Linked DNA regions of Homo sapiens: region 2 is linked to region 1. Evidence: fine-mapped expression QTL. A gene starts in region 1. The other region holds a variant in brackets. All regions are shown on one strand. Distances are between the middles of the regions.

Evidence for each region.
Region 2: its variant is fine-mapped to the expression of BNC2 in thyroid (GTEx, PIP above 0.99).

Annotation. Positions count from the first base shown.
Region 1 is chr9:16,861,450-16,877,938 of GRCh38, forward strand. BNC2 (basonuclin zinc finger protein 2) reads right to left here and starts at 9,221. Exons shown (of 7, transcript NM_017637.6): 1 at 9,197-9,221. The coding sequence starts at 9,199. RefSeq lists an enhancer at 5,985-7,184.
Region 2 is chr9:16,206,559-16,223,047 of GRCh38, forward strand. It overlaps LINC03041 (long intergenic non-protein coding RNA 3041), which reads right to left. Exons shown (of 4, transcript NR_171034.1): 2 at 9,214-9,341; 3 at 8,658-8,721. Among named protein-coding and RNA genes, the nearest start is that of LINC03041, 62 kb to the right of the region's middle. The variant A/G (reference allele first, on the strand shown) is at 6,436.

The sequences.
Region 1 (16,489 bases):
TATAAACAGCACTTAAAACTGCATAATAAAAAGACAAATAACCCAAGTGAAAAATGGCCAATGGAGACATGTCTCTGTTTTCCAGAAAAGATACACAAATGGCCAATAAAGTGCATAAGATGCTCAACATCACTAGCCATCAGGCAAATGCAAATCAAAACCACAGAGATATCACTTCATAGTCACTAGTATGATTCAAATAAAAAGATACTACTTCACACCCACTAAGATCTGTAAAAATAAAAAGACAATAACAAGGGCCAGGCGCGGTGGCTCACGCCTGAAATCCCAACACTTTGGGAGGCCGAGGCGGGAGGATGACGAGGTCAGGAGATCGAGACCATCCTGGCTAACACAGTGAAACAACGTCTCTACTAAAAATACAAAAAATTAGCCAGTCATGGTGGCGGGCGCCTGTAGTCCCAGCTACTCAGAAGGCTGAGGCAGGAGAATGGCGTGAACCTGGGAGGTGGAGCTTGCAGTGAGCCGAGATTGCACCACTGGACTCCAGCCTGGGCGACAGAGCGAGACTCCATCTCAAAAGACAAAAAAAAAAAAGACACATAACAAGTGTTGAGGAGGGTGTAGAGAGACTGGAAGAATTATACACTATTGGTTGAAAAGTAAAATGCTGCAGTTGCGTTGGAAAACAATTTGGAAGTTCCTCAAAAAGTTATAAGTAGATAGGCCATACTATCCAACAATTCTACTCTTGAGCATATACCCAAGAGAAATGAAAACATTATGTCCACAAAAACTTGTACATGAATGTTCAGGGCCACATTACTCAAAAAGTGTAAACAACCCAAATGTGCTTTCATTGAATGGATATATAAGAGGTAGTACATCCATAAAATGGAATATTAATGTACATTTTAAGTGGGTGAGTTATATCTCAATAAAGCTAATAACAGCAAACTGCTATGATTATATAGTGTTATATAAAATATGAAATGTACCATTTGGAAAGGCACTTAGAAATTACCAAACTCACTTGACTTACAAATGAGAGAACACAGGCTATCAAAAGTAGGTGGAATAGAACAGGGCCTCTATAGATACCCCGTCCCAGCGCTGTTCTGAGTCTCTAACAGGCAACAGTACAACTGCCTTCCAAGAAACAGCCAGTCACCTGCGTAGAGATACTGACTGGATAAAGAACAAGTGCAGGATACCTGCAGAGAGTAGCTACTGCCATGTATTCCTCTCTCTTTAATTACCACACAGCACTAACCTATTTTGTTCTAATTTGGGGGTTTTCATTGCCAGGGGAAGAGTTAAAATTATGGCCTTCATCTTCACAAGTCCCTCTTTTCTCTTCTACTACTCCCAACACAAACCATAATAAATGGAAATGAAACTGTTAGAAAAAGGAATGTTAAGACACTCATGCTTTTTCTGTGGGAAGGTCACCAGCCTTAGATGACCACGGCAGATTCATCTATATATAGCTATATATAGATAGATTTTTTTTTTTTTTTTTGAGACAAAGTCTTGCTCTGTCGCTCAGGCTAGAGTGCAGTGGCGAGATCTTGGCTCACTGCAACCTCCGCCTCCCAGGTTCAAGTGATTCTCCTGCCTCAGCCTCCCGAGTAGCTGGGATTATAGGTGCCCGCCACCACGCCCAGCTAATTTTTGTATTTTTAGTAAAGACGGGGTTTCACCATATTGGCCAGGCTGGTCTTGAACTCCTGACCTTGTGATCCACCCACCTGAGCCTCCCAAAGTGCTGGGATTACAGGCATGAGCCACCACGCCCTGCCCCATCTCAATATATTCTACACAGTACTTCCGCCCGCTGGCCAAAAGGCTGGGGCATAGCCCTAGGATAGGATAGCTGGGCATTTAGCATCCCACCTGGGGGAAAGACTATGAAAAATAACTCTCTCTCCCTAAAACAAGGATAACTTAGCCCATACTTTCACAAGACACTAAGAAAAGCTTAATAGAGGTGGCTGGGCACAGTGGCTCACTGTGGGATCACACTGTAATCCCAGCACTTTGGGAGGCCGAGGCCAGTGGATCACCTGAGGTCAGGAGTTCGGGACCAGCCTGGACAACATGGTGAAACCTTGTCCCTACTAAAAATACAAAAATTAGCCAAGCGCAGTGGCGCACGCTTGTAGTCCCAGCTAATCGGGAGGCTGAGGCAGGAGAATCTCTTGAACCCAGGAGATGGAGGTTGCAGTGAGCCAAAATCACGCCACTGCACTCTAGTTTGGGCGACAGAGCGAGATTCCGTTTCAAAAAAAACCTTAACAGAGAAAGTACAACTGTTAAAAAGCCTTGCCTAAAAGAGGTAAGGTCAAGAAAAATTAAAAATAACTTTACAGGGATTTGGCAATAAGTCATTAACATATTTGAAAAGTTATTGGAGAACCCCAAAAGAGTTTGGAAAACTGACAAAATCTGTTGAAATCAGGAGACAAAAATATTTTATTTACCCTCAGTAAAAACGGTTCTCCTAGTTTAAAAAAGAAAAAAAGACAAACTTTTGGGTAAAGAGGGACAAATGTATTATAATGTACCATTTTCTATTCAAGTGTTTTCAGAATTCTTAAAAAGGTAATTCTCTTCATCTCTAAGATTTTAAAATAATATTTTCCAATACAAAATTTACAAATACTTATTTTATTTATGATTTGAAAATGACCACATTATCATCCTTTTTCTCCTCTGCATCTAGCCAATTAAGCAAATGTATTTCTAAAGAACCAGGCTATGCTAGAGGAAAATCAAAGGAGGAAAAGAGCAAAGGAAAATTAATAGGCTACATTATTTTTACATAGATTTTAAAACATATATATGACATCTATGAAATATCTTTTAATTATTCTCTAGATATGGAAAAAGATAAACTGCTAATAGATCCATTCATATATATGATTTAGTCAGTACTAAAAATAGTTATGTTAGTCACCAGAAATACTGCTTTTGTCCTCTGAAAGATTTGAAAAAAGAAAATAAGACTTTCCATTGCTGTCAAATGTATTCAATTTTCCCCTCAAATGAAGTTTGGATGAAAACAATGTGACTGACAAGCCCCGCACAGGCAAATCTTGGCAACCCTCAACTCTGTCTATCTCCTTGGCCTGTTAAGCAAAATTCCTTCACAAACTGTTGGTCTTTGCAATAACTCCTACAAAGCTCATTACTGCCAGCGTCGGCCTATCCCCCATGTTGTGCATTTATCCCTGGGATGCATATCAACATGTGGCACATGTCCTTGACATGCACAGAAGAGCTGCACCCCAGGACAGCAGCATGCACGACAATAGTCTCGACGCTTACTTCTTTACGGTTGCTGGGATGTAACCGAGAAATCTAATAACTGTGACAGTGGGGCCTTTCGGTTTTTCCTTGCCTTTCCAGACAGTGAAGCTGCACAGACACTAATGAAAGGTTAAATGAATAGGAATAGTTGACAAGAGGTACAATAAAGAAGGAGCTTGGTAATCCACAGACACTGAGCAGAGATCCTTGGCTCAAGCAGAGAAAGGACAGCACATCGTCGAGTCACAATATTTAAAACAGCTTGCTATACACAGAGGCTTTTGTGTCTGGGTACACGTCTGGCTTTGGACTGAAAAAAAAAAAAAAAAAGACACTGAAAAGGAATTTCAGCATGGGGCACTTTGGCAAATGTAAGGTCATTATAAGAGAAAAATGTTTTGTGTAGGTTGTTACATCTTTGTAATAAACACAAAAAAGCAGGGACTATGAACTCATGAACCACAAGTTCCAAGACAATACTGTACATTTTGACAACTATTAAATACTGTATCTAGAAGGCTGGCTTGATGCTATTCCCACTGGTAAGATACATACACAGTGAGTCATTTAGGAGTTTCACATTCTGCCTTCCTTATGGAAGAATTCCTGATACTCATCTTATTAGAGTTTTATAGTCAAGTTCTAGTCTTTAGTGAACGTAATTTGTTACAAATACAACCAAAACTCTCAAAGCCACCTTCTACTCATTGAAAAACTTCACAGCAGTTACTAGCAATTTGTGAAGTACCAGGCAAACTTTTTGTAATTGTAAGTGATTGCAACTGTGAAATGGCCTCAGCTAGAATTCTTAATTATCGAACCTATTATTTTTTGGTGCCCTTCTCACTATACCTCAAGGGAAGGTTGTATTCCTTAGGAAGTTTATTTTAAATTATAACAGCAAAACAATTTAAATCACCAAGAGAAAAATACTCTAGAATGTCAAAGAGAAAATAGAGCAAAAAGAACAAAACTGATATTGTTATGTACGGATATTTTTAAAGGAAAAAAGTTATGACGATAGCAAAAACTTAAAGAATGATATATCTGTAATATCATTCTTACGCATATTGAGTTAGAATATAGGTTCTTACGCATTGAGTTAGAATATGGGTTCGTAACAAATGGTAAAAGCATACTGAGAATATATTTCAAAACAAGGGAGGCTCTTTGAACAGCCAAATTAAATTATAGCTGAACTCTTGAGTGTACTGAGGGTTCTAATAAGCAACAAATAAAGACTTTTATTGGCTAGCAACATAATGAGAGCTACTGTGCAAAAGATTTTAAGAAGGACAAATCTGGGTAGTTTATCTCACTGGATTATATTATTTACTTAAATGATAAATATGTTTGTCTAAAGTAATGCTCCTAAAAACTAGTATATAAATATTAAAGTGCAATTATGATCAATGACTCTTTAACATAACTGTATCACAAATGTTAATGGAAAGTGGTAAATATGAAATTAAATGACAATTATTGAATGTAATATCATTTAAATCCTATTTCTTTAACTTATTTTTTGATCCATAATAAGTCAGGTTTATAAATAGTTTAACATTTATGCTTATAACAGGAAGCATTTATTTTAAAGAAAATTTCTCTCTGGAATACAGAAGTTGTATGTAGAACTACTCCAAAACCATCATTTACAGAAAAGGGGTTGTCCTTCATAAACTAAAAGAAGTTAACCCACTTCTCGGTGATTTCGTAGGAAGCTACTTTTAATAGAACTCTGAAGACTGGCCTCCTAAAACGAGAGTAACTCCCTCAGTTGACAAAAACTACAAACAGTAGTTAGTCAAACCAAAACATTTAAAATATAGTATCTGGTTGCATTTTGCCTGATCTTCAAATCACCTGAAAGGCAAAAGCCTAGAAAGCTTAGCTGACGCCTTGACTGTTCTTGTAGAAAGTTCTTTTGCTTCTGTCACTTTTAAAAAAAAAAAAAAAAAAAAAACCATAATAGCACCTCCCAGCCTCAACACTGAGCCAGTATTCATTACCTACTCTTTTTGTGCAACATTCTGATGGCCAGAGTGTTTTTTAAACCTTAAGTATATCTAATAAAATCATGAGGCTCCCTCTAGCTCTTCAGAGGGGATTTTACTAACCAATGATACTATATAATTCCCATCCAACAGGAAAGATTTGAGGAGGCTACCTCCCCTTCCACAAGAAATGTTTTCCACTCTGTTTCTTGTAAGGATGTAGATGGTAAATGAGACCATCTGCTGAGTAAATCAGAAAGCGTTGCTCCTTATATATTTATCAAGTTAAGAATCTATAAACTGCTTCCAACCTAAGCTTTATGTACAGAATTCTATAGTGAAACTTTAATCAGATTAAACCATACGACATAAATTTACCCATCCTGTCTAAAATTAATTTTAATGTCAAAAAACAACAACATGTATGAACATCCACAGAAATTCAAACTTGTGGTCTGGTCTCAGTTTTAAAAATCTACATTTAAATGCAGAATCTCAAAAATTCAGGAAAAAAACACTTCATGAACTGTATCTGTGGGGTTTATATAAAACAAAGATGCTAATAGTATAGAAAACATTTTCATGTACCATAGTATTTATACACAATACTAGTATAATGACTTTTTTATTGTTTAATCTTACCTGCAATTTAGTATTGGATATTTGGGGATCGTAGGTTGTTTAGAAGACTATAAATAATACAGTTGAAGTATGCCATCTTACAATAACCATAAAAGCCACATTGTCAACTGGCAAATCATCTCAAACAAGTGAATGTGAACAGTACTAAATTGAACTCCTCATATTCACTAAGGCCATCTTTCAAATACTTAAGGAATATTTAAAACCGTGCTGAACCCTTAACTGTAAAATTAAAAGTAAAGGAAACCACTAACTTCAAGTCATCATCTATTTTGGACTCCCTTAATATAAGAAATATTCCCAGGAACAACAACAAAAAGAATAGCTCCCTCTACCCCCCCACCCCCACCCCTTTTTGAGCCAGTGTCCAATTTCTTCTTTTCTGAACAGCTGTATTATCCAACTTAAGTTGCTCTGCTAATTTCAGTCCCACAAGGACTAACTTGGAAGGCAAAAAAATACAAGAAAAGATCAATTTGCTGGGAAAGATCAAATGAGAAAACTGTGGGGACAGCACCAGGTCAGCGTGTGGAGAACTAAGCAGACCTGTTCTTCATTAACTGCGGCTCTCTGGGGATGTCACACACTACCTGTCCGTGGGCTTTATTGAACCGCCTAACCCGCCTCTCTGTTCCATTCTTCTGGGCCCAAGTGAATCATATCCTGCTGCTGACAAGTTAGCAGGGGACTGCGGCTGCAACATGAAAGTACTTTTCTTTCTTGTCTAAATCAGGCAGATTTTTGAAAAGACGACACAGCATTGACTCGTGACATGGCAAGATGAAACGAGAGGTCTGGGCCGGTCTTGGAGCTGTGCAGATAAAAGTAATCAAATGACACTCCTGGAATGCAAATTGGCATTCTTGACTGCAGCAATTGCACAACCATGAAACATCCCTGACAGCAAGCAAGATTAGGACAAAATGTTATGTAAAGCACTGAACTCAAGAACTCTCACTTGAAAATTCAAACTGTAACACTTACATTTTAATATAGCAATAGTCAGCTCTGCTTTTGTCTGCTTCTTTTTGTAATCACATATCTCTATCTGACAGATATCTTACATCTCAAATAGAAGAAAAAATCAGGTAGTAGGAATGTACTGCTATTAACATTTTCCTAATATTAATTGTAAAATATAATGCACAGTTTATTCTTATTCAAAGTCTTACATGCAAACACCACCCAACTTAATATTCTCAAGAGGAAAAAAAGTTTCAGACCTTTCTCAAAAGATACTCAAAACAAAGTTCAGGTTCAAGCTCGTTATTACTTCCCTCAGGTAAAGATACTCCTGTACTTTGGTAAAGTGATTAGCAATCTGGACTTTTAATACAGCGCACTCTGGGAACTAAGAACTTCATTAAGACTGAACAGTTTACATGAAACGGCTACAAATATAAAACACAGATACTCTCTAAAGGCTCACAAGGGATTGTGTGTGTGTGTGTGTTTGTCCAAAAAGTAAATGTTCTGTTAACTTGTACAAGGTCTCACTACTAGGGTACATCTTCAGATCAGACACACTAAGTAACGTGCCAGAAATAAATTCCTCCCATTTAAAGCATGTATGCGTGTGGACAGTAACACGTGAAATTGCAGAATACAAAGCAGTGGAAGGCAGACAGGCTTAGCCACAGTTCAAAGTCATTAGGATATAGGAATACATGTGTAGACAAATAGTTAACATAGGCTAGGGTAAAGGGAAGAAAAATAATACCTGCCACCGGCTTTTACAGTGTTCTTGTGTAAAACGCCCGTTAGAAGAAAAACTCTCAAGCTCTAAACAGATATATTTAATATTGTTGTGATGTCTCACTTAAACACGGCTTTCAACAATTCCAAGTGTCCACGAAGTATATAAAAATAAAACAGGCCACTTTTTGCCACTTTAATCCTGGGTACACAGGATTATTTTATGATGTCTTTTGTACGTCAGTTTTACAACAGCTTGACTCTAGGGTAAATGGGAACCATCATAAATCGCACGCTGCTTTCAAAACCACTTTAATTTCTGTCAGCGTTACTGTAACCACAGTCCTGGGCTCTTGCTTTTGTGTGTGTGTGTGTGTGTACGCGCCCCTGCATTTGACAGTCCCATCTCCTACACTCCAGTTGTGACTTTGATCACTGAAACAAGAGATGTCACATTAGGGAGCAGGGAAGAGGAAAAAATGCCAACCCGCTATCTCACCTGTATTCTCATATGTTCCCTCTATATACGGAATACACCATGTCAGATCCCCAAGTGGGGGTAACAATAGCGACGCTGGGAGGAAGCAAACTAAAAAGAAGGGAGTGGTCAAGCCCCATTTCTAACAAATCACTTCCCCGAAAGCGGACAGAGCGGCTCATCACCAGGCGAACTAATTGCACGCTTCCTCGCTGCAAAGAAGTCGCTTCTCGTAGAGGGGCTGTGCTGGAGTCTCGCTTGGCAAAGCCAGCCCATCTCCTCCACCACTTGCACTTGGAACTTTTTTTCAACCTTAAACTCACTTCACAGGAGATTTCACCTAGGGTTTTTCAGCATATATAATTTTTTATTCTGCTCCCTCCCCAGGCCCCAAATCCCACCCTCCAGTCAACGTGCAAGTAAAACAAATCGGCTCCTATAGAATTGCACTTCGAAAAGAGCCGTCTCTGCAAGGTTGATTTTCCTGCCCTGCGTTCTGCACCTTCTCCGTAAAGCCTGCGGGAGCATTTCCTCCCATCTCCATTTACCACGGGAAGATTCCGAATGTGAAGACAAGGGGAGAGGAAGAGTCAACGTGCCGGGCCCGGGCGGCTGCGCCCCAGCGCACCCGGCACCCACGCCCAGCCGCCGGTCCCTCACTCGGCGGCAAGTTGTAAAAGTTCCCGTAGGTCCCAGCCGCCTTCCTCTCTTCCCCGAGCTCCTGCCAGCGCTCCATTCATCCCCCACTCCCCTCCACCTCGTCCCCCCAGCCCGTCCCCAACGCCCTGGAGCCTCCCCTAGCCAGCCGCTCACCTTCGCGCGGAAGCCGCGAGCGGGGCCGACCTTGAGAAGCCCCCTCTCACGTGCACCCTCCCACCTAGAGCTCGCCTCAGAAACTTGGGGCCAAGTTTAGGGGAGGCCACTGGGAGCGCAGCGGGGATCAGGTCGGACCGGGGTTCTGGTCCCCGGCCCGCCCTCCTCAGCGCCCCTTGCCCCTCACGCCGCGGGCCGGAGGGCGGACACGGCCCCCGGGCGGCCCCGGTGGCGCTCGGGCGCGGGGGTCATTTCTGAGGAAGTCTAGAATAAAAGAGGAAGGAGGGTGGAAACTTCTTACCATCTCGGCATGCTGGTTGTCAAGTGCAGCCCCCGCCTCTTGGTCTCCTCTTAGCGGCCGCGCCTGGACCAGCCCCTCGGCCGCCGCTGGCTCCCTCCGTCTCGGCCTTTCTCTCCCTCCCCCTCCGAGTTCCTCCGGGCCTCCGCTCTCGCCGCCTCCGCCTCCCCGCCCGCCCGCGCGCGCCCTCGCCGCGGCCCCTCTGCGCTCAGGTGACTGATTTACACTCGCGCCGGGGTCGCGCTCGCGCCCCGAGTCCCAGCCGGCACGGTTCCCCGGCTCCTCCTCGGGACAAAAAAAAAAAAAAAGGGAACGGCTTGTCCCGGGAGGGGGCTGCCCTGCTCGCGGGAGGCGGGGGACCGGCGGGCGAGGTGACCTCGGCGGCCGTGCAAGCCCCACAAGTTTTTCCTCTCTCTGCAGAATTGTCGTGACTACAATGTTGCTTCCCTTTTGCAAAATAAAAGTCGGTCGTTGTGTTGTTTGTCCTCAGAGGTCCAGGGGCTTGGGGAAGGAGGATGTATGTTTCTCCCTCCCCCCACCGCCCCGTGACTTCTTTGGGGGCTTGTTTGTTGTTTGGGTTGTTCTTGCTCTCTCTTTCTGGGGATGGAAAAAACAACTTTGTGGGGATGGAAAAACAACCCTGGCGCCCCCCCCCCCCCCCGGGGAGCTGCGGGCGTGGAGGTAGAGGTGGCCGCTAGCGCCCAGCTGTCACACACACACAAAAAAAAATTGCGGGGCGGGGGTGGGGAGCGGAGCAAGGAGAGGAGGCTGCGAAACGCCGAGGAAAGGGCGCGAACTTTATTCCGACTGCAGCAAACCGCGGCAGCTCTTTCCTTTTCGGGCACTCGGGCGTCTCTGTCCCCTTTGACCAGTTCCTCCTCCCCAGCCCCGCACGCCCCCTCCTCCCCTGCCCCTTCCCCAGCGTCCCAGCCGCGGCCGACCCGGCTCCCCGCGACCCTCTCAGCCCAGCTCCTCCGCGCGCCGCTGGGGAGAAGGCGAGTGAGGCGGAGGAAAACCCAGCGGACAGAAACCTGGGACGCGAACGTGCTGGGAGAAAAGGCCAAAAGTTGCGCGCAGCTGGGGGAAAAAAGTTTTTCTGGTGGCGGAGCGTTTTGTGCCGGCCCAGACGCCGGCTTGCGGCGAGGGCTTCCTTCCCTTTCCCGTGGTCTGGGCCGCGGGCCTCGGGCTGGAGAGGAAGGAGGCTGTCGCGCCCGCGGGGGAAAGAACAGTCACATCTGTGGGTGACACTCAGCCGACCCAAGTCACCCTGCCCTGGAGACTCAGAAACGCCGACTACAGCCTAAGCGCGCACACGCCTGCAGCTGAACGATATTTCTTAAATACAGGCAAAACACACTCCCCGGCCGCAAGAATGGGGCGGGGGTGGGGGGGGAGCTTAATCATCATCATCTAACTAACGTACACTTTGTGCCAAAAACATCTCCGAGTTATGCAGATTTATCATAACTACAGCAAACTTTCTGGTTATCTAACATGGGAGGAAGGCATAGGTTTCAAGCATACTCCCTGAGCACTAAGAAATCAGAGAATCGGCGAAGACTTGGCAGAACAGCAGGTATGGTTACCGGTTCCTAGTGAAAAGTGAGAATCATCCCTTCTTCCCTTCTCTCTTCCTCAAACGGAGAGAGAGAGAGAGAGAGACTACTTAATTGCATTCAGAGGACAGAATTAAATTCCTTTGAAAATATGTAGCCTTGGAATTACATGGTTTTATTTTCTTTGCAGAGTCCGGTCTTAGTTTAATATAAATTTTCACAGTAACTGATTTTTTTAAATTTTTCGGGAGCCGCTGATGAGAGTCCCAAGTAGCCACAGCTGTCTTGAAAATGTGATTAGGTGGCCGGGCGCGGTGGCTCACGCCTATAATCCAACTTTGGGAGGCCGAGGCGGACGGATCGCCTGAGGTCAGGAGTTCGAGACCGGCCTGACCAACATGGTGAAACCCCATCTCTACTAAAAATACAAAAATTAGCCAACTGTGGTGGCGGGCGCCTGTAATCCCAGCTACTCAGGAGGCTGAGGCAGGAGAATTGCTTGAACCCGGGAGATGGAGGTTGCAGTGAGCCGAGATCGTGCCATTGCACTCCAGCCTGGGCGACAGAGGGAGACTCCATCTGCAAAAAAAAAAAAAAAGAAAGAAAATGGGATTAGGCTTATTATTCACGTGGATCCAGCTTTTTAACACGCACTTGCAGTTCCCTATACTGATTGGGTCCAAATTCCTGACTGTTTCCTGGCCCTTTCAAAGATTTCTGCATTCGTGGATTCTGTGCATCATTTTGTTGTGGAAAAATGTGTGGTAAACACTTCTCGCATATTATTTATCGTAAATACCTTAGAGTTCTGGGGACAGGTTGCATCTGCAGGTTTCCAATGAAAGACAAGATTACTTCTCTCACTACAGCATAAATCAAAGTATAGACTAGATCTCCCAACGACCATCTATATATATATATATTTAAATGTGTGTTATCTAAGAAGGCTCATCTTTAAATGATTTGATTAAGGTGTAGAGCATGTTCCCTTATTCTCTAAACATAACTAACATCATCCTGTAGTTTGCAGAAACTGATTACACAAGGGATAATGATGACCAAATGTGCATTTTGAAAAATTGAGGATCATCACAAGAATTTTCCAGAAATGGGCCAAGTTCCAGTATGTTTTTCTTGCATCATGGAGAGATGAGAAAAGCTAGTTGCTAATTTCAGAATCATTACCTATACAAATCCATTCACACACTTACCGCTTTGGACAAGTGACAGATCAGCAATTGCCAAACAATTGTATTCACACAGTGCATTTTTGGCTGCGCACCTACACTGACCAACATGCAGAAGTTACTCCACATCAAGCGACCTGTAATTTACATTCCCCTGATTGGTTCCACATCTGTCTGTTTTTGACGTTAGCATAACAAACAATTTATGTGAGGCAAGATGCGTCTGTTTGGGATCTCATGCCTTTCTGGAGAGTCATCATGATAAAAATGGGGCATGTGTTAGGCTGAAGAGCAGCACTTGGAGAAGGTGGAAGAATTTACAGGAGGAAGCAAAGCCTAGCATTTAAGAGGATTCCATAGTCTCATTTCATCTAGCGGTCTGTATGGCAATTGGAATAAAACCTTAAGTCCTTTTTGTATCCTGCAAGACCTGAATTATCTAAACCTGCCTGACTTTTTCGACTGTTTTATACCATTTGTTCATTACCATGGTGGACTACACTCAAGTCACATTGGCTTCCTTTCTGTTCCTCTAACTTGCAAAGCTCCTTCCTGCTCTTTGTCCCTGCTGTTCTACCTGGAGTGTTCTCCCAAGTTTTCCAATGATTCCTTCTTATCATTTATATCTCAGCTCTAATAGCAATTCTGCAGACTCTAGTTTAAATAGCCCTTGGCCCACCACTCAAAACACCCCTCATACTTCCTGTTATTACTTATTGTTGTATCCCTTTTCTATCCCTTATCAATATCTGAAATTGTCTTCTTAGTTTATATATTTATTATTTTTCTTCAACTAAAATGGAAGCTCCATAAGGGAAACAACTGTGCTGCAGGTCCTTGAATAACATCGTTTCATTCAATGTCGTTTCATTCAACGTCCTTTTGTTACAAGGCTGAGAAAAAAAAAAAAAAACTGATTCCAGCCAGGGCCACTGTATGTGTGGCATTTGCACATTCTCCCCATTGTCTGCATGGGTCTTCTCTGGATACTCCAGTTTCCTCCCACATCCCAAAGATATGCCCCTTGGGTTCATTGGAGTATCCACATGGTCCCAGTGTGAGTGATTGTGAGTGTGTGTGAGTGTGCCCTGCAGGGACTGATGGCCTGTCCAGGGTTGGTTCCTGCCTTGCACCCTGAGCTGTCTAGATTGGCTCCAGCCACCTGCACCTCAGAACTGGAATAGCTGGGTAAATATTTTAATTATCTAGCTGGGCATGGTGGCTCACACCTGTAATCCCAGCACTTTGGGAGGCCAAGGCAGGCAGATCACTTGAGGTCAAGAGTTTGAGACCAGCCTAGCCAACATGGTGAAACCCCGTCTCTACTAAAAATACAAAAAAATTAGCCGGGCATGGTGGTGTGCGCCTGCAATCCCAGCTACTGGAAGGCTGAGGCAGAAGAACTGCTTGAACCCGGGAGGTGGAGGTTGCAGTGAGCCAAGATCGCACCACTACACTCCAGCCCTGGGCAACAAAGCCAGACTCCGTCTTGAAAAAAAAAAAAAAACTTAATTATCCTAATTTTATTAATCTTTAAGTGTATGTATAGCTCACATTTATTTCAATGTTTCAATATTACAAGTATTTGGGGGTGTTTATTTAGAAGTTTGGTGATGTTTTGTGACCAGAAATAACCTGCAGGATGCTTGTTTATAGCAGCCTATGGTAAAATGCGTTTTGCTTATTGTCGTTTTGCTTAAAGTCACAGTTTCCAAGAACCTAAGCATGACACCGTTAAGTGAGGACTTTGTTCACTTACATAGCCTCAGCCCATAAAACAATGCCAGGCACAAAATAAACTCTTTTAAGTATTACTTGAAGTAATGAAGAAATGTCAAGAGGATTACACTGCATTGATCTGAAGACCTTAGGGCCAAACAAGTTCAGTGTAAGAATATGCGGGGGGGGGAAAGCTTTTTCTTTTGGAGAATGTAGGAAACACTGTTGACTTCCTACGCCAGCCATCCTCAAAGTATGGTCTCGGGACCCCTAAGGATCACCAAGACCCTTTTAGGAGGTCCATGAAGTCAAAACTATTTTTATTACAATACTGGGAAATTATTTGCTTTTCTTACATTCTCTCCTGTGTGTACAGTGGAGTTTTCCAATGACACTGTAACAGGTGGTATCACAACAGACTGAATGCAGAACCAGATACGAGAACCCACCTGTCTTAATCAGCTGTTAAAGAAATGTGCCAAAAATGTAAATCAGTGCACTCCTCTTCTCGCTTTTTTTCTTTTTGTGATGGAATCTCTCTGTGTCGCTCAGGCTGGAGTTCAGTGGCGCAATCTCGGCTCACTGCAACCTCCGCCTCCCAGGTTCAAACAATTCTTCTGCCTCACCCTCCCGAGTAGCTGGAACTACAGGTGCGTGCCACATCCGGCTAGTTTTTGTATTTTTAGTAGAGACGGGGTTTCATCATTTTGGCCAGGCTAGTCTCAAACTCCTGACCTCAAATGATCCACCCACCTCGGCCTCTCAAAGTGGAATTACAGGCGTGGGCCACCGCACCGATCCTGTTTTTGTTTTTCATTTTAAAATGTGAGTATATATTCATTTCCTGTAGCTGCCATTGTGTCCGGAATTCGTGGATTCTTACTCTGACTTCAAGAATGAAGCCGCGGACCCTCACGGTGAGTGTTACGGTTCTTAAAGATGGCGTGTCTGGAGTTTGTTGCTTTTGACGTTCAGATGTGTTTGGCGTTTCTTCCTTCTGGTGGGTTCATGGTCTTGCTGGCTCAGGAGTGCAGCTGCAGACCTTCGCGGTGAGTGTTACAACTCTTAAGGCAGGGCCTCTGGAGTTGCTTGTTCCTCCCAGGGGGTTCGTGGTCTCACTGGCTTCAGGAGTGAAGCTGCACACCTTCGCAGTGAGTGTTATAGCTCATAAAGGCAGTGTGGACCCAAAGAGTCAGCAGCAGCAAGATTTATTGCAAAGAACAAAGCTTCCACAGGGTGGAAGGGGACCCAAACCGGTTGCCCCTGCTGGCTCGGGCAGCCTGCTTTTATTCTCTTATCTGGCCCCACCCACATCCTGCTGATTGGTCCATTTTACAGAGAGCTGATTGGTCTGTTTTACAGAGAGCTGATTGGTCTGTTTTGACAGGGTGCTGATTGGTGCAGTTACAATCCTTGAGCTAGACACAAAAGTTCTCCACCTCCCCACTAGATTAGCTAGATACAGAGTGTCAATTGGTGTATTGACAAACCCTGAGCTAGACACAGAGTGCTGATTGGTGCATTTACAAACTTTGAGCTACATACAGCGTGCCAATTGGTGCATTCACAATCCCTTAGCTAGACATAAAGGTTCTCCAAGTCCCCACCAGATTAACTAGATACACAGTGCCGATTGGTGCATTCACAAACCCTGAGCTAAACACAGGGTGCTGATTGGTGTGTTTACAAACTTTGAGCTAGATACAGAGTGCTGATTGGTGTATTTACAATCCCTTAGCTATACTTAAAGGTTCTCCAAGTCCCCACCAGATTAACTAGATACAGAGTGCTGATTGGTGCACTCACAAACGCTGAGCTAGACACAAGGTGCTGATTGGTGTGTTTACAAAACTTGAGTTAGATACAAAGTGCTGATTGGTGTATTTACAATCCCTTACCTAGACATAAAGACTCTCCAAGTCCCCACCAGACTCAGGAGCCCAGCTGGCTTCACCCATTGGATCCCGCACTGGGCTGCAGGTGGAGCTGCCTGCCAGTCCCGCACCCTGCGGGACTGGGCTCCATGGAGCTGGGAGTGGTGCTCGTCAGGGAGGCTCCGGCTGCACAGGAGCCCATTGGAGGGGCGGGGTGGGCTCAGGCATGGCAGGCTGCAAGTCCCAAGCTCTGCCCGGCTAGGAGGCAGCTAAGGCCCCTAGAGAAATCGAGAAGGAGCACAGCAGCTGCTGGCCCAGGTGCTAAGCCCCTCACTGTCCGGGGCTTGCTGGCCTGCTGGCCGATCCAATTGCGGGCCCGCTGAGACCACACCCACCCAGAACTCGTGCTGGCCCACAAGCGCCACGCGCAGCCCTGGGTTCCCACCTGCACCTCTCCCTCCACACCTCCCGGCAAGCTGAGGGAGCCGGCTCCTGCCTTGGCCATACCAGAAAGGGGCTCCCACGGTGCAGCGGTGGGCCGAAGGGCTCCTCAAGCACAGCCAGAGTGGGCGCCAAGGCCTAGGAAGCGCAGAGAGGGAGTGTGGGCTGCGAGGGCTGCCAGCACGCTGTCACCTCTCACCGTGACAAATTACCACAGATTAAGTGGATTAAACAACACAAATTCATTATAATTTTAGAGGTCAGAAATCTGAAATAGGTTTCACTAAACTAAAACATGTTTGTGAGCCTGTGTTTCTTTTTGGAGTCCCTAGGGGAGAATCTATTTCCTTATTTCTTACAGATTCTAAAGGTCACCCCCAATGCTTGGCTTATGGCCCCCTTCCATCTTCAAAGCCTGTAATAACCAGACATGTCTTTCTCATGCCATACCACTGTGACACTGAGCCTTCTTCCTCCCTCTTTCAATTATAAGTACATGAGTGATTACACTGGGTCTAT
Region 2 (16,489 bases), 650 kb before region 1:
GTAACCAATGGCCAACTCCCCCATTCTGTCTCAGGGCAATTACAGTAAGTGATGTGAAGTGGTGAGAATGGAAATGATTTATTCGGAGAACCTTGTCAGTACTGCTGTTAAATCATTTGTATTTCATTATGGGCCATGAGTGGGCTAGACTACATTCCTTTGCTTCAGGCCCCCTGTGCCATTTCCACAACTGGTTATTTCAGTTGACAATTAACAGGAAATGATGCTAACAGCCCCAGGGTGGTCACTTTTCTGAGGGACTCTGCGTATTAAGTTTCAATTACTTAGAGTCTCCCATCTAAGTCCCCAAAAGGAAATGAACTGCTTCTATAGTTGTCACAGAAAACCAGTTACTTTTTTTTTTTTTTTTTTTTAATCTTTCCCAGTCTCTGTTTTGTCAGTCAAGTTTCAGGAAGTTAAACTAAGAGTTAAACCTAAGGTTCTTTATCTTTCCCAGTCTCTGTTTTGTCAGTCAAGTTTCAGGAAGTTAAACTAAGAGTTAAACCTAAGGTTCTCTGGGGTCTCATCTGTAAGAAACTCATCTATTTCTTCTACAATCCAAACTCCAAAGACAAAGTCAAAAATGAAAAGCATAAGAAGCAAATCATAATGCTGAAGAAAATAGTGTTTGTCTTTTTCCCTTCAATATTTAAATCTCATGTTATGGAGAATGCTGTCAGCAGAGAACCCAGCATTTCCTGCTCTGATGGTCTCCATGCTCTTTCCTTCTTTTCTGAAGACTGCTGCTTCAGGACCACGGAATAGGATGTGTTGGTTCCCAGGGCAATGTAGCAAACGGAGGTCCCGCCCAGACAGGCAGGATGTGCAGCAGTTTCTGCCGACCGCGGCCGTCGCAGCTGCTGTGGTGCCTTTCTGCTAAGACAGCGAGCAGTGTCTGTTTGAAGTCTGTTCTTTGGAAAGGAGACCCAAGAGAACTTGAGCTGGGCTTGTCTGGATATCAAAGTCCAGATTAAAAATTTATTCTAGTGTTTGAAAAATTCCTGGCCAAAACCTTCATATGGATTTAAAAAATACAAACTCCCTGCTTTCTTCACTGTCTCCGATTGAGGACGAGAGGATTTATTTCTAAAAAGAAAAAATGAAAGCGAGGCCGAATAGTTCCATAAAAGAGCTCAGGTCAGACGGCCTTTTAGCTAAATCTGTAAGAAAAGTAATATGTTAAACCACTTTGGGCAACTGGGAAGCACTTGTATTAGTTATCATTTGTGAATCTTTGTTTTTCCCCTTTCCTATTGCATGTCGGATCACCTGGCTCTTTTTGCTGGATGTAAAGGGTGAAGAAAGAGAAAGAGTTTCTATTCCGTATCCCATACTCCTACCCCATTAGACAGAAAAGTAGAGGAGAAAGCTTTGTTTAAAAGTTGTGATATTGGGAGGGAAAAAAAAGATTGCCAAGCAAGCAGATAATGTAATAGTAATTATGAAATTATTGATAAAAAGAACATAAAAATCATTAGGCCAAAACAGAAAAAAATTAAGGAAAGAGTGAACATTTAAGCAATAAAATTAAACCAAGGCCATTAACAAAATATACAGAAGAAGTAGAACTACCTGACATGGGACATTATTAGTGAAATGTGATTTTGGTTGTTGTTGTTGTTGTTATTGTTTTTGTTTGTTTGTTTGTTTGTTTGAGATGAAGTCTCTCTCCGTCACCCAGGCTGGAGTGCAATGGCATGATCTCTGCTCACTGCAACCTCTGCCTTCTGGACTCAAGCGATTGTCTTGCCTCAGCCTCCCAAGCAGCTGGGATTATAGGTGCCCACCACCACACCCAGCTAATTTTTTTTGCATTTTTAGTAGAGATGGGGTTTCACCATGTTGACCAGGCTGGTTTCAAACTCCTGACCTCAAATGATCCACCCACCTCGGCCTCGCAAAGTGCTGGGATTACAGGCGTGAGCCACCATGCCCAGCTGTGAAATGCTGAAATAGAAGTTGAGAATGAGAAATTAGCTCCAAGGGCAAAACAACTAGATGAAGGATCAGGATGAATATATCAAGTTTAGATTGAAAGCAAAGGGCTGAATAGAAGAAAGTGATAGAACCATGTCAACAGACAGAAGCAATGGCAACTATGAAGGCAGACAGCCCCAGAACTACAAAGACACAAAGCAGCCTGCAAAAATGAATGCTAAGCCTTAAATGAATTCATACAGATCCTCTGGTAAAGGGTTTTTGCTATTGTGGTTGTTTTGATAAACTTCATAATTTGAAGTATAACTAAGATACCTAGCATTAGTGTACAGTTTGATTAATTTTTCAGAGTGAACACACCCACGTGACCACCATTCGGACCTGGCCATGGAATAATGCCATTACTGTAAGGCTACCATCTTTACTCCCACATTCCAAGAGTGACCCCTCTTTGGACAGCCATCAGTATAGATTAGTTTTGTCTGTCATTGAAGGTCCATAGAGTCATACAATATTTTTTCATTTCTTCCTTCACTCAACATTATAATTTTTATCCATACTGTTGCACATAGTGGTAGTTTGTTTATTTTCAGTGCTATATAGTATTCCATTGTATATATGCCATAATGAACACCTTTCTCCTGTTGATTGATAGACATTTGTGTTGCTTCTAGGCTCTGGCTAGTCGAAATAGCACTGCTATGAATATTCTTGTGCGTGACTTTTGATGCCCTTATACACAGATCTCTTTGTGTATGTATCTAGGAGAATGATTGATTGCATCAGAGACTATGCGTACATTAGCTTCAGTAGGTACCACAAGAACAATTTTTCAAAGCATGACATCAGGTTCCATGCCTGCTAATGGCATGTAAGAATTCCTGTCGTCATTTCAGATTCTCACCAGTATTCAGCATTGTCAATTTATCTGAAATTTATATTCTAATAAGAAAGTGGTTAACATTGAATTGTGATTTTAAGTTTGCATACCTAATTTTATATATTTTCATAAGTTTGTTACAAATTTAGACATCTTCTTTTGTAAAGGGACTGTTCAATAATTTTTTGTCCATTTTTAATACATTATATGTCATCTTGTTGTTGTTGTTATATAAGAAATCTTTAAATATTCTAGATATATTTACCTTCTCCCACTCTATGAGTGGTATATGTATGTCTGTGTTTTCTTTACTTTTTTTCATGAGAAGTTGTTAATTTTAATGAGACCAATTTATCAACCTTTAGTTTTATCGTTAGTAAATTTTATGTATTGTTTTGGTTTATCTACACCAAGCTCATGAAGTTATTCTCATAGGTTATATTGTAGAAGCTTTATTGTTCAACCTTTTATACTTAGGCCTATGTTCCATCTGTAATGGACTTTTGTGTATGGTGTGAGATAGGGGGTCAAAGAATTTTTTTTCTTTTGGAAATCCAATTAACCCAGACATTTGTTTTCACACACTACATTGCAGTGGTGCCCGTGTTGTAAATTAGGTGATTTCTATGCAGCTCTGTTTCTGGACCCTCAAAACTCTGTTCCATGGGTCCATTTGTCTCTATTTACACTAGTATCACACTGCCTTAATTACTGTGGCTGTGTAAGTTTTGATATCTCTGGTAGTACAAGTCCTTCAGCTTTCTTCTTTTTCAATTTTGTCTTGACTATTTTTGACACTTTGTATTTCTACGTAAATTTTAGAATTAGCTTACCAATTTTAAGAAGGAAGGGAGAGAGGAAGGGAGAGTGCATGGGAGAGAGGAAGCAAGGGAAAAAGGAGGAAGGACAGAGAAAGAAAATCTGCTGGGATTTTGACTAGTATCGCATGGAAGCATAGGCCAATTTGAAGAGCGTTAACATTTTTACAACTATGGGTCTCCCAATCCAATTTACATGTTATATCTCCTCATTTATTTAAGTCTTTAAAAACTATTCTCTGCAATGTTCTGCATTGCTGTGCATTGGTCAGGTGCATATTTTGCTAAATTTATTCCTAACAAGGTGCTTAATTTTTTAAATACTATTATAAATGGCATCAAATTTAAAGTATTATTTTCTAATATTTGTTGCCAGTATACAAAAACATAGCTGATTTTTGTATGTTGACTTTATATTCATTAGTTTAGCTAAATTGCTGACTCATTCTAATAATTCACCTGTAGATTCTATGCATACAATCATGTCCACAGATACTATCAGGTTTGTATCTTTTCTAATCCTTAAATTTTGAAATTTCTTTTTCTTGTCTAAACTACTCTGGCTAGAACCTCCAGTACACTGTTACATAGAAATGGTAAGAGTGAACATCCTCGTCTTGTTGCTGGTCTCCAGCAGAAGTGTTCGTATTTCATTATTAAGTACAGACTTTTATAGATGAAAGGGTTCCCTTCTAGTCCTAATTTGATGCCAGTTATATTTTCAGTGATGAACAAGTTCTGAGTTTTAACAAATGCTTTTTATTCATCTTTTGAGGTGTTCATATGGTTTTTCTTTATTTTGTTTCTGTGGTGAATTATATTGATTGATTTTCTAGTGTTAAACCAACCTTGCATTTTTAAAAGAAACTTTATTTTGTCATGATATCTGATCCTTTTAAAATATCTCTAGATTTGGTTTGCCACTAGTTTGCTCAAGAGTTTCATATCTATATTACAATGAAGGATTGGCCTATAATTTTCTTCTCCTGGAATGTCCTTGACAAGTTTCAGTATCAAAGTAATGCTGGCCTCATAAAATGAGTAGCAAAGTATTCCTTTTTCCAGTCCCTGGAAGAATTTGTGTAACACTCATTTTTTTTTTTCCTCATATGTTTGAAATAACTCCTCACTCAAATGTCTGGGCCTCAAGATTCCTTTGTAGGAATCTATTTACATTATAGATTCAATTTCTCTAGCAAATATGTGAATATTCAAATTATCCATTTTTTCTTATGTCAATTTTTGCATTTTTCTAGGCGTGTGTCCATTTCACCTGCATGTTCAAAGCCACTGACATAAAATTCTTCATAATATCATCTTAATATTTTGTTTAATGTCTTTAGTGTGTGTGTTAGTAGTTTATGCTTTTGATTTATCTAGGTCAGTCTCTCCAGGGATCTATTTATTAGGCTTTCCCTGAAAATATGGACAAATACATAGAAATTCATTATTCAATAAAAAGTTAAGAGAATGCCAACTGAAAGATATGTAGTGTGTTGGTAGTTAAAAGCAGGAGAAATTGTAATTGATTGGGAAGCTCACAGGGGACTTAAAGTGGGAAATAATTGAGATAAACCTTAAAGGAAAGGTAGAATGTTGACAGTATTAATAGAAAAGGCATTATTGGCATAAGAGAAATTTGGATAATGTGCAGCAGGAAATTGAGAAAAGATGGGAAGGTCTGGACAATCAAGAGATTTGAGTCATAGACAATGAGAAGACACCGAATTCATATTTTCAGTATTTTCATATGTTGACTATTTGGAAAATATAAGGAACGATGTTGAGGAAAGACACTAAGTTGTCCAGCCTGGTGACTGGGAGAAGAAAAAGAAGGCAAGAGGAAGAGCGTTTCAGGGTTAGAAATGTTTGACTTTGTAGGTCCCAGTCAAAAGCTGCAGGCTGGAGCCAAGACAGTGGAGGAGCTGTCAAAACAAGCAACAGCATGAGGATGTGATCAGGCTGTGTCCAGAACCATGGGCTTTAGTCCCTTTACAGCATAAGAGGAGGAAGGAGTCAGTGAGCATAGACCAGAGAGGGGAGCCTGGAGCCACAGAAGCCAAGAAAGCAGGCTTTCTAGTAGGGCAGAGTTCATTGTATCAGACTCTACAACTCAACCGAGGGATGAGGACCCAGAAAGCCACTGGACTCAGCATGCGGGAAGTCACTGTGGGCCTTTGTGGCATATATTGAGATAGTAAATGTCTGGTGTCAATGGGAAGAGAAAGAAGAGAGGGCTTCATTCTAAGGGGCATGCTTTTCCAAGCTGTGCAACCCACTCTGTCTTCCATTCACAATTATTTATAGGTTGCCTGCCTATTCCAGTCACAAAGCTAGGTAGTGATCAAAGTAGACATGACCCCTCTCCTATTGAGCTCATATCTAATGAGGAGCTAAACATCAAATAAATATAAAGAAATGATTAAAAACCATGATTAATGCTTGGGGAGAAAGAAGAGGGAATTATGAGAGAGAATAAAAGGAGGAGGCCGATTTAGATTGCAGCGGGGATTGGGGAACGCCTGACCATGGATTCACATGTAGAGGCATGAAAGAAAGAGTTCTGACAGCATTGAAATAACAAGATGGGCTGTTCGAGTGTCTCCTTCAGGGGCCAAGTAAATTCTGGGGTTCTAGAACTTGCCGGGCATCATGACCCCACAACTTCATCTAATTCCCAAACCTCCCTCCCCATCACATGCCTGTCTTCAGGAGACGGAGAATCAGTCAGAAAGCAGAAACCACCACAAGTCAAATTAAAGGAGAAAATGTGTAGCTCAAGGCAAAAATCTTCTTCCA[A/G]AGAACACAAGGAAGATGAATCTACCATTGTTGAGTTATAATGTTGGGGGATTATGAAGGCTAATATGATTAATTGTAATTATCATTTATAATGTATACTTATAATGATATTGCTTCTAGAACATCTTCATTATCTTTCACTTTTGAAATGCTGCTTGGGCTTCCCAACAGATTTCAGAAGGGGCTTTTATTGGGCCCAGATCATCAATCCAAACCTTTTAAGGTAAGGGTGTTGCTACCTCAGAAGCCAAAGAGACATTTCCTGTCCTGGAAAGCACTAAATAGTCATTAGCTTCTTCAATCTGTTTACCAGCCCGCCTGTCACTGGGGTTCGACAGGCCTCAAAATTAACACTCTACTCTATTTGTCCATCACAGGGCTGTCCCACAGACTGCGGTTCTCAAGTGGCCTCAGGCAAGCCTTATTTCATGCCAGAGCTAAGTTCCTGGGGAATAACATGTCTAAATTGAATTTGGTTTATTCAGGTCCGTTTGAAATGAAGCCTTGTTTAAAAGAAAGCCATACTCAATTTTATTTTTCAAGCAAATCTATCTTCATCGTCTGACCTAATTGGTCTCAGAGACCCTAATTTGGAGAGTTTTCATGCCCTTCGTTTATCATTGTGGCAACGTCAAAATCAGGATGGTTTCTTTCAACCACCTATGCTGCCTTTGTAAGAGCAAGGATGCTCCAAGCAACACTGGTCTCCCCAAGTGTCAGCGAGGCCCCTCTCTCCATAATCTCTGGCCACCCTCTGTCTGTCTCAGTTTCTTCTGACTTCACTGTAGGGCTCCCCAGGCCTCCTCAGTCTTGTCTGTCTCACCTGGACACCTGCTCAGTGGGAACCCATGTCCTTGACCATCTCGGCTGGCCCATGCACCTTGGCCTGTTTGTATTCAGACCTTTTGGAATCCACAGGGACAACTCACCAGTGACCAGGGGCAGAGCAGCTGTATCAACTCAGCTTGGGGAAGCTCAAGTATCCAGTGATCTTGGCTGTGTGGAGTTTGAAATGAAGCCCAGTGTATTACTCACGGCAAAACCAGGGGCCAGCCAAGTTAAATAGAGCACTCCCCGAAACATTCACGGACTGATTAGAGAAGGAAGCTCTGATTTGAAGAGAGGCTATTTTGTGTCTGCTTTTATTTTTTTAAACAACATGCTTTCCATTAGTGAGATGGGAAAAGTAGAAACCTGAAAGAATGATATTTATTAATTTAAAAAGTTCAGGTCTGTGACCATATGCCATGTCCCTTTGACTTCATAATAATGGCCACACTTTGAGGTCTTCCTTTGTCCAGAAACTGTGGTAAGCACTTTGTAAGCACTTTCTCATGTAATCTTTATGAAAACTCTGTGATGTAGGTACCGTTCTTACTCCTGTTTGCAGATGGGCAAGCTGAGGTCCAGAGAGAGTAAGCACACACTATTTTTAAGTGGTAGAGCTAAAATTTGAACCCTGGCAGTCTGCCTTCCTATTCTTGCCCGCTCTTAAACAAATGCAAGTACCCAGGAGCTTTCATGAAGAGAACCCCTCAAAAGAAAGCTGACATTACCCCACGGGTTCATAAGTGGGTGCAAGTTTTTTTTTTTTTTTTTTTTGAAAGATCTCTGAAGGCCAGGAATTCAATAAGGCGGAACACACCCCACTGAACCAAGCAGGGCTTGAGTTTGCAGATTATTTTCCGACCAGAAGGAGTTCATTGACTTGGAGGAAGAAAGGAGATCATTTAATGGACTTACAGAAAATATTTTTGTTTTCGCTTTTTTTCTCTCGCAGAACAGTTCAAATCTTCCAGGCCACGGTTCATTCCCTCTGTTGGCCTTTCTACCTGGGATTGTTATGAGAGGCCTGAAGCTAAGTCCCCGTGTCCCCCACTGGCCAAGCCTGCCCTCTCGTTTGGTCAGCGCACCGACACTGCCTTTGCAGCTGCATATCCACGTAGATATGTTTATTGGAGCACTGAGAATCTCACTTCTCAAAAAGCCCCGGGAATTAGATTGTTTTCCACACTGAAAGTTTTCATTTGAAAAATAACCCTCTTTGTTTAACTAATGAAAAGGAGGGGCTGCTGCTCGCTTCTCAGGCTGGGTAAGAATTCCATGGGCAGTAATTCTGTTTCTCAGTGGAAAATGTTTCGGTTTCTTAATGTTGTTTTGCAGACTGGTCCCTGCCCGGCCCTTGCTCCCAGGACCACACATACACACATGTGCACACTCACCCATGCACAGTGCAGCATTTTCCACCCTTCCCTGTTGGGGATGGTTGCATCCTCTTTCCAACACCTGCAGAACAAAAACGAGGTGGGTCAGTGGCTGTCACCCAGCCAGAGACATCCCTGCGTGTACGGGAACAGAACGCTTTCCCTGGCCACGCTTTCAACCCCAGAGGCTGGGTGGGCCACAGAAGAGGAAATTGGACTCCAAACTTCTCTTGTTTCTGTGCATCTCCATGTCAAGCAATTCTCTCACACTATGGAGGGGGTGTTCTGTAACATTCCCTCCTCATTAGGTTCGTATGAAATGGAGATAAACACAGTGCTGTCATCATTGGACTTAGAGTGTGGCCAGCATGGTGCAGAGTGGTCTGGACCGCACAAAACAAATCAAAATATGGCCCCAGGAGACAACTTGCTGGTGGTAGAAAAAGCATGGATGCTTGCATTTCGACAGACCTGCACCGTCACCTAAACAGCTCAGCCCACGTGCAAGCAACTGCTGAACTACTCTGAGCCTTTTGCATCCACAGCTACGGACAAGAGAAGTTATGTAACTCACAGGCAGGTGCAGTGCCCTGGGTGGTGTTTCTCACATAGTAGATGTTCAAGGAACACCTATCTTCTTCCCTCTCCTTTGTTCTCTGAAAACGAGCCATCTCGCGTCTAGCTGGGGGCCAAGCCCCATTCCTACAAAACAAGTTACAAACAAACAAGTGAGTGCAGCCACAGCAGAGCCGAGTCCAGAGCAGGGTGTCCTCACCATCCCCAAGGTCCACTGCAGAGTTAATGTGTACTGTCAAAGGGGTGCTGTGTGCTGTAGGGCTGGGGGATCCAACACCAGCGGGAACTGTTAGGTCTGTTATCCAGAAATGTGAAGTATTCCTTCTCTCTATGGTCTTTGCGTGGGACAGATATATCTGGCCTGAGTATGTGGCCTAAACACAGTTGTGCTTAAAGCAGGCAAAAGGACTGGGCAAAATAACCACCATGTGAAAATAGACATTCAGGAGATCCGCACGCATTAAATGTAAAGAGAAGATTAGCTGTTAGCATGGAGCAAATGAACAGCTTTAAAAGTAGACAGGGATAGTATGAAACAAGGCTGTCAGTCAGACTGCTTTTAGTTTTCAGTGATGAAAACCTTCTTCTATATTACCTCTAGCAAATAAATAAATCAGTAATTTATTGGTTCATATAACCAAGACATTCTGGGTTAGAACTCCAGGTGGGGCTGAATACACAAAGTCATATGATGCTGGTAGGGCTAGCTGCTTGGCTGGCTCTCTTTCTCTCTCCATATCCATATTTTGTCTAATAGCCTAATTCTCTACTCTTTCGAATTACCATCCTACTCTCAACTTGGTAGCTCCAATAGAGAAATTCTATCTATCTCTCAGCACAGGCATATCAAAACCAGGGAGGATTCTAAGGGACCCAACCGTGAACATATTACTGGCTAGAGGATAAGGCACTATACTTTCTCTGCTACAGAAAGTGCAGATCTAGACAGATCTGTTTAAGTGACACCCTCTCTAAGTGACAGTGCAGGTCCAAGTCTCCACTCAACCCAATGTTTTCGTGTCTACTCCGTTCTAGCTACGATCTAGCCACTGGGAACCCAGCCGTGGACAGGGGAGAGGATGCCCAGCTCCCAGGCAGCTTATGGTCTTGTGAAGAGCCAACATTTTAGTTGAATCCTGCTACTTCCTGCTACTCTGCATCAAGAACCAAACAGAAGTACAGAGTCCTCTCCGTTCACAAAAAAAGCCAATTTCTTTTTATAAAATTAACAGAAAGTTACCAAATACAGTTCTGTACACTGAAAGTTACCACATGTAAAGCAAGCATACATATTGCCTCGCATTCCAGCCAGCAGGGCAGTCTCAGTGTGGAACCCCCCTGCTGAATGGCACCTCTGGAAGGTATGCAGCAGGCAGTACTGCCAACCAGAAATGGCCGGGGCTTTCAGGAGACATCACTGCTTTGGAGTTTCTTGCAGAAAACTTTCACATTCATCTCACACACAAGGATTGCAAACTGCTTCCTTTTGTGTGTGTGTGTGTGTGTGTGTGTGTGTGTATGTTCTCTGATCAAAGGAAAGTGGGATACTCTGTAATACTCTGTAATCAATGATATGAAATGGAATTACACCCTGAGTACACTGTAATGGGCATTGTGGATTTAGGTTAGGGGAGAAAAGTTGGCCTCCCAAAATTTCTGTATTTGGAGGGACCAGTAGACTTGTGTTTTTTGATGACTTGGATGTGTGATGGTGTGGGAGGACAGTCTCATCAAATATAATTTACTCAGTATTTATTGAGTGCCTACTATGTACCAATCCTCTGGTTATATAAAAACAAATAATACAGCATTTCTTCTTCATGGATAGAGTGGCTAAGTCGGGGACCTGCACATAAACCAAGCACACTACAGTGGGTAAGTGTTCTAAGGGTCTGTGCACAGCACATTACACTATGACATGTTAAGGCATGCAGTAATCTCTTAGTGCCTATGGTGGGGATGAAAGATTTTCTCCTCATCTCTGAATGGCTGGGTGGAACCCCAGCATGGAGCCTCGGCTGGAAACTAGAGGATTCTGGACAAAGACGAGGACAGGCTCTAATGTCAGGCCTTGGAACCATCTGAGGTCACCACCTGTTAAGCACGCTTAACCTCTGTGGACCCAAGGTGGTGTGTGACAAGCATCCCCAGGGCTTGCTGGACAACCATTACTTTTTATTACGTTTCTTACTGTCAGGTGCTCCGAAATCCACATGGACTGCTCTTATGATTTCAGGTTATCCCAAAAGAGAAACTCAAGAATCAGTGATGAGCACAGCCGGGAGTGAGCCGGCTGCCTATCTCAAAAGGGCACATCACCATAATCACAGATATACCATGAGCATATGCAGAAAGAATGTACCGAGGGAGTGTGTGTCAGGAGCGGCCAAGAGGATACATAAACCAGGTGCCCCTCCCAGCATCCCTCTCCCCCACCAAAGCAGTGCCTTTAAAATATGTGATAGGTGCCCACATTGTCTCTCTGGCCCCGCAGAATGCCCCTCCCCCAACAGCCACCTTTGCTGCTCTTCGTCTAAATCCACCCGGGGTCTCCCCTGGGCTGGCTGTTGCCTTCATATTTCATGCGGAATGCGCAGCTTCCCAGGAGCCGGACGCATGCCCTGCATTCTGATGCATCGGCCGGCTCTGACACCAGCCAGCTCCAGAGCATGCCTAATGAGGAGGCTGACACCGAGGCAGAAGAGCCAGGCCGGGCTGTGGACGGCCCGCTGCAAACAGGGAGTGGGGTGACAGGAAGGCACCAAGGGTGAACCCGGGGGAAAGATGGCAGTTGCCTTTTTAAGACACGACTCTAGCATCAGATACTACAAACATGGGCCAATTTAAACCACACCAGGAATGAATCACAGCCTCGAATAAAGAGCAATTTGGATCAAGGAACTTCCTTGGGGAAAGCATAAAACTAAAAGAGGAAGGAGAAGCGGCAAACACTAAGAGAAGGCAGAAGCTTTGAAATCACTCATATTTCAGTAGGCAGAGTGGTTGCCCATTTTAGTTTTTCTTCCAGTGTAGAGCTCCTTCAAGTTTCCTTAGAGACCACTTCATTATCTAAAAGATGCTGCTGAACAGAAGTTTTTCCTTTCCTGAAAGCCTCATCTACCTTAATTTCACACATTATTCCTCGTTTTGACTGGCTCTATCAGGATAAATTGACCCTTGCTTCCCATGGTATTTATGGCATTTATCCTTGGGGTAGAGCCAGTACCGACAATCACCATCCCAAAGCTACGAGGATGCGATGGTAACATGCTCATCAGCCATCTACTTAACACTTTGCCCAAGCCTAGTCCCGTTTCATCATCCCAGCAACTTGATGAGTTAGGTGCAGATGAGAAAACCAAGAATGACAGAAGTTTATCCAAGGCCATACATCAGACCAACGGTCTCAAACATGGGACCGCCTTCAGTACTTTCCAATGAGCTGGGTACCCACTAAAAAAAAAAAAAAAAAAAATCAAAATCTACCATTCCACTTGGTTCTATGTGGAATGATGTGGCAAATCATGATTTCTAATCATTTAGTGTAGATAAAATATTAGCAAATAAAACTTTACACTGACATAGGAAAGATTGTTATTTACATCATGGACTCTAACAAAGAAATTTCCTTTAAAGCTTTAATTTTGTCATTTGTGTTTCTGTGTGTGTGTCTGTGTAATAAGCCTTTGGTTTTGGCTCTGCAGATGCTAATTTCGTAATGAAATTCATAGTTCTTTATTGAAATGCTTACCACATGTCTCACAGTTTTCATTAATTGTCTCATGTCATCCTCCTGACACTGTGATCCAGGTGATATTGTCCCACTTTGGAGATGAGGAAACTCTTGTTCAGACAAGTTACATAGATGGGCCAAGACCACAAAGCTCCTAAGTGGCAGGACAGGAACCTGCCTGGCTTAAAGCTACAGATACTGCTCATAGTAAGCCACCCTGTTCTGCAGCCATGTGGTATCCAACATATTTAATATCATTCAATGCCCTGTGTTTCCCAGCATCATTGTTCTTTTTGTACTTCCTGCCCATTGGGTTCTTGAAATATTTTCCCTGTTAATTCTTGCTCTTTTCCAGAGGAACTGAATATCAGGATATCAAAAAGATATCTGCATTCCAGTGTTCACTGCAGCATTATTCACAACAGCCAAGACATGGAAGCAACCTGAATGTCCATCAACAAATGAATAAAGAAAATGTGGTATATACATATAATGAAATACTACTCAGCCTTGAAAAGAAGGAAATCCTGCCTTCTTTTTTTTTTTTTTTTTTTTTTTTGAGATGGAGCCTTGCTCTGTCACCCAGGCTGGAGTGCAGTGACGCGATCTCAGCTCACTGCAACCTCCACCTCCTGGGTTCAAGCAATTCTCCTGTCTCAGCCTCCCGAGTTGTTGGGACTACAGGCGCCCACCACACCTGGCTAATTTTTGTATTTTTAGTAGAGACGAGGTTTCACCATGTTGGCCAGGCTGGTCTTAAACTCCTGACCTCATGATCTGCCTGCCTCGGCCTCCCAAAGTGCTGAGATTACAGGCATGAGCCACTGCACCCAGCCCCTGCCCTTTTTGATAGCATGGATGAACCTGGAGTCGGTTATGCTAAGTCAAAAAAAGCCCAACACTGAAGGACAAATACTACATGGTCTCACTTATGTTAGGAATCTAAAATGGTCAAACTCAAGCAGAAAGTAGAATGGTGGTTGCCAGGTTCAGAGGGAGGGAAAAATGGGGAGAAGTTAGACAAAGGGCATGAAGTTGTGTGATATGCATAAGTCCAGGAGAGCTGCTACACAGTGTAGTCCCTAGAACTAACAATATTATACTGTATACCTAAAATTTTGCTAAGAGGGTAGATCTTAGGTTAAGAGTAAAAGAAAACTTGCACTTTTTGGCCGGGCTCAGTGGCTCATGCCTGTAATCCCAAAACTTTGGGAGGCTGAAGTAGGCGGATTACTGAGGTCAGGAGTTTCAGACCAGCCTGGCCAATGTGGTGAAACCCCTTCTCTACTAAAAATACAAAAATTAGCCGGGCATGGTGGTGCATGCCTGTAATCCCAGTTACTCGGGAGGCTGACTCAGGAGAATTGCTTGAGCCCAGGAGGCAGAGGTTGCAGTGAGCTGAGATCGTGCCACTGCACTCCAGCCTGGCCAACAGAGTGAGACTATCTCAAAAAAACAAAACAAACAAACAAACAAACAAAAACTTGCACTTTTTCTTGTGTAGAATTACATTTTACTGGTTCTTTTTTAACGCTCGTTTAGATTCTGTCCTTTCTCAAAACAAAACAATTCCTAATTTAAAATCTTCAGCTAATTTTTTGTTTCTGAATACTTTTGGAGTTAGAAGCATAGAATTTTACAATGGAAGGAAATCTTGGAGATTGTGCATCCCCCGCTTGCGGGAATTTTCCCTATAATAGCTCCAGAAACTGGTCATCTCACCATCTCCACTTACACATCCTCAATACTACAAAGCACACTACACCAAAAGGCAGCTCAGCCCACTCTCAGACAGTCTGAATTGTTAGAATGCTCTTCCTTGTGCTTTCTTCAACATACAAATTTGGGGATATAAGGGGGGAAAATTCAAACCATAACAGTCTCTTGTCTGCAAATCAGTGCTTTAGACACATGAATAAGTCACTTGTGTGATCCCTGACGCTTCTCTTTTTCTGGTTTAACAACCTCCAACTTTTCGCCAGACTCCTCTGTCCTGGGAGTCTATTCTGAACGCACTCTTCTGTCAGTGCCTGAAAGGGTGGCACCCTGCCAGCTGGGCTCGGAGGACCCTACTTCCCCATGTCAGCTCCAGTTGAGTTCACACTCTCAGCTGCCTAGGTGTGCAGAGCTAGATTTATATTGATCACAGACTCTGCTAATTCTCCCAGGTCCCGATCACATTGATGATTCTTAAACCTGGATTCCCACATCCAGTACTATGCTATTTGATTCTCTTTGTAGAATATCGACAAAACAACCCTGGCCAGAAAGAGAGATCCTTTCAGTACTTTGCTGAAAACCTCTTTTCTGAGTTTGGGGCTGTACCACATATTTTAGGGTCTTTCCACTTCTCACTGCTGCACCTATTCTAGTCTTCACATCAAATCCAACAAAGACAGGAAGATAGGTGAAGTGGTTTAAAGCCACCGTATTTGCTAATCCTGAAACTCCTGAAACTGAAATATGCAAAGAGCTCAAGTTTGGCAAACTCAGTTTTTCAGAAACATGCCATGTTAATTCCCCATTGTCCTGTTGTCTTGCAGATACTGAGGCTTTTTCTCTTAAGATTTGTTCCCTTTTCTTGCAAAACATTGAACTTCCCAGTTCTATGTTTTCCCTGGATTATTTCCAGGGAAATAATGCTTCCCTATTCTGGAAATCAGTCCCACATGTCTTCTTTTAATACTTCTGATAAATCCCCTGATAGTGATTCATATTTTTCAGTCCTTTAACAAGTTCACTTCTTAAGCAATTGTTTTGATCAGTTTCTAATTTGGGGGCAGGGAAGGGCAATTCTTTCAAATCTACTGATCTGTACTCTCCAAGAGCACCCTTTCTCTTTAGGCTTCCTTTATACATATCAAAGAACTAAGGCGGGGCCATAAAGCAATCAGGAGGTGGAAAGAGGTTAAAACAAGTAGCAGGCTTACAAGAAAAAAAATAGTCGACTCTGTTTTTCAAAATTCTTTTTGTGGAATATGAGATAGATAGGAGAACTACAGTCCAGAGTGGAAGGTCTTGGGGACCAGGGAGGAAAAAAGTAGCGTGGAAGTGGGATTACAGAGGGACCTGAATTGCCATGGCATGTGAAAAAGATAACTCTACCAACCCAAGCAACATCCAGGTCATGAATTCAGGTCTGAATTCTTCCAGGACAAGTTCTGGAATTTCTAGAAAGCAGGGATGTCCTAATATATTTTATACTCAGAGCAGGTCATTATTTGATACCATCCCCTATATCACATTAATTTTTAGGAATCAGTGTGTAGCATTCAATTATAAAATTTTTATTTGTTATTTAGTTTTAAAACGAACAATTAGCAACTTAAAAAAGGAGAAATATCAACCTTAAAGATACTAGTCAAAGTCAGCAAAATATTTCATATATGTACTAAAACTTATATTTATTAAACAACAACATTACATCTCAAAGTTTGCACTGTTTCACTGTCTTGAATTTCAAACCCAAAAACTCCAAGAGGTCACATAAAATGGCAACACTGATAGAACCCAAGTTTTGTTTTTTCATCCTTACAATCAC